Linked DNA regions of Homo sapiens: region 1 is linked to region 2. Evidence: fine-mapped expression QTL. A gene starts in region 2. The other region holds a variant in brackets. All regions are shown on one strand. Distances are between the middles of the regions.

Evidence for each region. PIP is the estimated chance that this variant, and not a neighbour inherited with it, causes the effect.
Region 1: its variant is fine-mapped to the expression of NUDCD3 in whole blood (INTERVAL, PIP 0.96).

The regions. Positions count from the first base shown.
Region 1 is chr7:44,440,439-44,443,352 of GRCh38, forward strand. The region is part of intron 2 of NUDCD3 (NudC domain containing 3); the gene reads right to left. Among named protein-coding and RNA genes, the nearest start is that of NUDCD3, 49 kb to the right of the region's middle. The variant G/A (reference allele first, on the strand shown) is at 1,330.
Region 2 is chr7:44,489,205-44,492,118 of GRCh38, forward strand. It overlaps NUDCD3 (NudC domain containing 3), which reads right to left and starts at 1,454. Exons shown (of 6, transcript NM_015332.4): 1 at 1,205-1,454. The coding sequence starts at 1,396. RefSeq lists a silencer at 1,036-1,205.

The DNA.
Region 1 (2,914 bases), 49 kb before region 2:
TGGACCTAATTCTGGAATAGAAAAGGGACACTAACTAGTGAGAAAACCAGAAAAATTGAAAAAAAAAAAAAAAAAAAAGCCTGTGATCATTATTACTAACTTGACACAGGATTTTTTTTTTTCGATTTTTCTGGTTTTAGTTAGTTTTCACAAATATATCATGCCAACTAACACTCAAAGAGAGGGAAAGGGGAGGAGGTTTAAGTCTGCAGCTGTGACAATTCAGACCATGGGGTTGAAGCCAGCCCATAGTTTGAATCCTGGGCTTCAGCTCATACTAGGTGTGTTATCTGAGCAAATTCCTCTATCTCATTAAAGCCTCAATTTCCTCATCTATAAAATGGGAACAATAATGATCCCAATTCTTAGCCTGTTGTGAGACTCATAAGCTCTTACCTAGTCTTCTTGCATGTGAGCTCTCTCTCTCACCAACATGAGGCTATTAGTAATACCTGAGTTAACAGTTTCCTTCCCTTGATACTGAATCACAGTCCTAAGCAAAAAGGTTTAGCACCCATTTTCAACTCAAGATGACAGTATTTTTCTCTTTTTCCTCCTTTTCTTCCCATCTCCCATATTCCCACAGTCCCACCAACTTTGAAAAGCAAATAAAAGCACTTTTCTCTCCATAATTTCCCTGCTGGGTGCCACTATTCACAGCACTTGATATAGCAAATTCTGGCAATGCTTTCCCATTTGATTTATCTAGAAGGTTGTTATTTACTGCTCCTGCTGTTTTGGGGGCGAAAATGTTAGTGGTCTACCAAGAGGACTTTCCAAAAATAACAAGACGTGTTTTCACAACAGTCAGTATGTGGAGGGCACTGTCATGTTGGTTTCTTAGCTTTACTCATAGCATGACAACACTGGATTTTTAGGGATTCTTAGACTAAACTACTTTGATATGACTAGTGAGGTTATCTTTTGTTTTCTTGAAGATATTATATCCTGGGAGGACTTTCAGTACCAAGAACCACCCAGTCTTCCAGGGAGAAATGAATTCCACATTGTCCAATTTTGCTCCCGCCAACAATAGCACCAATTTATTCTGCCTGGAGTATGGAAGCATCAGAAACCCTACATACAGCCCAGTCAAAGACTCGCCATGTCTACCCGCCCTGCCCAGCCTCTGTTCAGTCTCTGGACTCTCTGTGCCACCCTCGCAGCTAGGACTACCCACACTTGGATCCCAGGCTTCAGGTCAGGGCTCCATAGCTAGCCCACACATCAGAGCCGGCCCCACCTGCCACTCAAAGAGTACTGGCCCAGGTAACCTTACTGTTGTAGGTCCCAGGACACAGATGGGAACAACGTGGGACTTACAAACTT[G/A]GAGTTAATCAAAAGTGATTAAGTGGCTCTCAGAGCCTCTGGTCAACAGAGAAGGCCCCTGGGAGGAGCTGGACATTCACACAGAACTCTGATAAATGGCAAGACAGGGCCAGCTATGAAGACCACAGAGATGAGCAGCCTAGACAGTGTCCCACACAAACTCCTTGATCCACAGCCACAGCACTGGCTCAGGGCTCATCTTTGCCTCCAACTCACTGTGCCCTTGGGTTCATATCTCCATTTTCACATTTATAAAACTTACAAAATGGGAGCACATGAGTACCTTCCTCAAAGATGTTCCTGGGGTTAATGAGTGAATAGATACAATGCTCAGAACAGTGTACGACTCAGAGTAAGTGTTAGCTGCAGTCATCACTGTCACCATCATTAATATTTTTACTGATGTAGATTATTAATACAAATAATATTGTTATCATCAAAGAGGAGAAGCTATCTTACTAGCCAAGATCAGCATAGGGCTTTTTAAAACAGAGTTCAGAATTTAATTAAAAAGTGATTGCAAATCACTGCAAGGTTGGGACAGGGAACAATGTTATTTGGTTGTTTTAAAAGGTCAATGCACAGCTGCCACATGGAGAGTAGACTGCAGAATGCCAAAAGAAGTAGTTCCAGGGGCTGTTTGGGGGCACCAGCATGGAGACTGCAGGCAAGCCTGAGGGTGTAAGCACATGCAGGAGAGTATGCACCTGGGGGACCCAGGGCAGGGCCAAGGACACTCAGGCTGAATCACTTCAGCCCCACGAGGGCTGAAGATGGGAGGGGACAAGTGACAAGATGGAGGCTCACCTCGCCTCATTCATCTTCTGTCTCAGCTCACTCATTGAATTACTTTCCTCTTACCCTCAAGTCTTTAACAAAATTGAACTTCCTCCCTAACTACAAGAGGGGCGGACTCTCCCCTTTTCTTTTTTTTTTTTTTTTTTTTGAGACAGAGTCTCACTCTTTGGCCCAGGCCGGACTGCAGTGGCGCTATCGCGGCTCACTGCAAGCTCCGCCTCCCGGGTTCACGCCATTCTCCTGCCTCAGCCTCCCGAGTAGCTGGGACTACAGGCGCCCACCACTGCGCCTGGCTAAATTTTTTTTCTTTCTATTTTTAGTAGAGAAGGGGTTTCACCGTATTAGCCAGGATGGTCTCGATCTCCTGACCTCGTGATCCACCCACCTTGGCCTCCCAAAGTGCTGGGATTACAGGGGTGAGCCACCGCACCTGGCCTCCCCTTTTCTTTATAGCACCTTCATACTTAACACCATGACATCAAATGACAACGTATTCACACAGAAAGCAGGCATTTTGTTTACTGGTTTATTTATGTTTACTTATGCAACCAAGAGAACCTATATGGCTGTCATGGGAGCCCTACCTTCTAGAAAGAGAACAACCACATCCAGCACAGTTTCTAACACACTCTGCATACAGGTGGGATGAGCTTTGAACACATTCAATATAAAAAAAAAAAGAACAGGTAACAGGTACAATGAGACTGCATGCTAATCTTAAAGAAGACATTCCACAACTTGTTACCTTTAAATTATCAGCTTTCCTATTACATTAAACAAGATTCAA
Region 2 (2,914 bases):
AGATCAAATGGCAAGACTTCATTAACCTGCCATAAGATCCTGCTAAAGGCCACCTCCAACAGCTCTCTCATCACTAAGATGGCACTTATGCCACTGACAAGGACGAGGAATAGCCTTAAGTTCTGAAATTGAATCCTAATGGAACCCCATTCCTCGTTTGGCCCTATTACCCTGGTAGCTACCAAGACATTCAAAGCTTTGGCTTCTGCTGAGGAAAGTAACATCTTACCAACCTGCAGCATGCATTAAGACTTCAGGAGGAAACATCTGAAGCATTTTATAAACTGTAACATCTAGAGAACTGAGGGAGGTATCATCAGCATTTCTATCTTCTTGGGTTTCTACAAATAGGCTTAATACTTGGCTGAATAGTTTCTTTTAATCTCATCAGAAGTCCCACCTCTCTTATAAAAACTTCACTTCTCAACCATCATTTCTATTTCCTTTCTTTACAATGGGCTCCATCAAATAATTGCCCTTAAAAAGTTTTCTATTACTTTCTGGGTTTTCTCTCTTTAACTGTGTCACAAGGAGAGAGAAACCATTACTTAAACACCCGTATCACCCTCACCTGCGGCAACTAAGAGTGTAAACTACATTCAGCAAAAGGTTGCTTACCACTACATTCAAAAGTGCCCAGTCAACTTCACTGAATGAGTATTGACAGCGTTTCCAACATACAATAAACTTAACCTGGAGGGTACGGAATTAAGCTCAAATAGAAATTTTAATAAGCACTACATTGACAGTCTTTGACCTGGGAAGTCACATTTCAAACAAGCGACCACACCCATTGATCAACACAATGCCTCCGTCATCCCCGCCAGCTCAAGTCTTTGGTAGTTCTGGGGCATGCACGTTTCTGTTGCTGTAAATGTCCTTCCTTCTGTCTGGCCTGCATGGATTTCGCTCCCTGACTAGCGGCCCCCAGCACCGTGAGGGGTACGCGCTGGCGGGTGCTGAGTAGGGCTCTTAACAGTCGGCTTACTACTTCTGAAACCTCAGGACGTCCGGAGCGAACACCTCAGCGGAATAAGCTGACATCCAATCCGCGCTTCAAATTACTGAAGCCATTCTCACAAGCTCAACCCCAGGACACCAGGAAAAGGAGGAAACAGGCTGGGAGAGCTTGGAGGAGCGGGCGCCAGGAGTCAGGGCAGGCCGGGGGCGGCGGCTCCCCAGACCGCAGGCCCGCCCGCCTCACCTGCAGCACCAAGGCCTGCGCGGCCCCGGGCGGGAAGCCCATGCGGTCCGATGGGTGGCGCAGCAAGCGATAGAAGTCTGTCTTGCGGTAGAGGAAGCCAAAGAGAACGCGCAGGAAATCCTGGACGTTGCCCACGTGCTGCAGGATGCCCAAAAGGGCCTGGTCATACAGCTCGGCCGCCCCTGTCTCCATGTCGCCTCCCGCCCTAGGTACGCTTCACACACACAGCGCCGCCTCAGACCTGCCGACTGGCCACTTCCGGCGTCCGCAGCCAACGGCTCCGCCGGACGGCGCGGCTGCGGAACTTCCGGTCCGTGCTCGTTCGGCCCCCGCGGCCCCGGGCTGTTTTCCCCAGACCCAGCTGCCCCACGGGCTTTGCCTTGAGGTGGTCTTAGACAAAAGAGCCCGACAAGGGCAGCAAGGAGGTTCCTACGCGGAAGGAAGCCCGTGGCTTCTGCTGCGCTGCGAGGGCTTGACCGCCATGTTTGAAGCGGGCGGAAAAAAATTATGGGGCGTGCAGTGTCACGTGACTGCTCGGATTTTTGTCACGTTGTCTGTGGATCCTTTCTTATTTCTGTGTTGAATTCCAGCCTGGGTATTTGGAACCTATGGTTAAAGATGGGGCTAGGGTAAGCTTTTTGTTAGTGAGCCAGAGACGGGAAAATGCGTATATGTGGGATGTATGGGTTTCTTATTAACAGATCTGTGAGTTAAACTCAGGGCGTTGCATCAGAAGAAAGTCAAGATGACGAAGAAAATAAAGAGTGCATTCAACGTATATTAAGTGGAAAGAGCTAGATTCAGAATAGAGAATCCGTATGCCATCGTTGTGAAATATGTACGTGTATGTGTGTGTATAGTATGTATATACATATATACGTCATATATACATATGTTGTTAGTGTCTGTCAAAGTATAATCTTAAAAAAGTAAAAAGCATGACACTCATACAAATATATCATGAACACATATCCAAGATTTCTTCAGCAAATTAACAATGATATGGTAAAGCTGGTTCAAAAGCATTTTGAGGAAGTGGAGATTAAACATTTTGACAAAGCATTAGAGTAAGATTAGGTTGGATACAAAGCTGGCTGGTGTTCTACAAGATGATAAAACCATAGATTATCATTTCTAGTGTATAGAAATGATTTGCACCTCTTCTAGATTAAAACATGCAAGTTAACATGTCTTCATAGTGTATAAGCTTTAATGAATTGTAAATAAAATCCAACTCAGGTAAATTGCCCTAGAACAGTGGTTCTGAAACTCTTGATTTAGGGACCATTAATCCTCTTAAAATTTGTTGAACATTCCAAAGAACATTTGTTGATATGGGTTATGCTTATCAATATTTACCACATTAGAAATTAAAACATAAAATGTTTAAATATTTATTTAATCATTTTTAAATGACCATAAAACACATTACATGTTAACATACTTTTATGCAAAAAATAATGTTCTTCAAAGCAATAAAAGTTCAGTGAGAGGAGTAACATAGTTTTACATTTTTGCAAATCTCTTTAATGAGCCTACTAGAAGACAGCAAGATTTGGCCGGCACAGTAGCTCATGCTTGTAATCCCAGCACTTTGGGAGGCCGAGGCGGGAGGATCAGGAGTTCGAGACCAGCCTGGCCAACACAGTGAAACCCTGTCTCTACTAAAAATACGAAAATTAGCTAGGCGTGATGGCAGGTGCCTGTAAT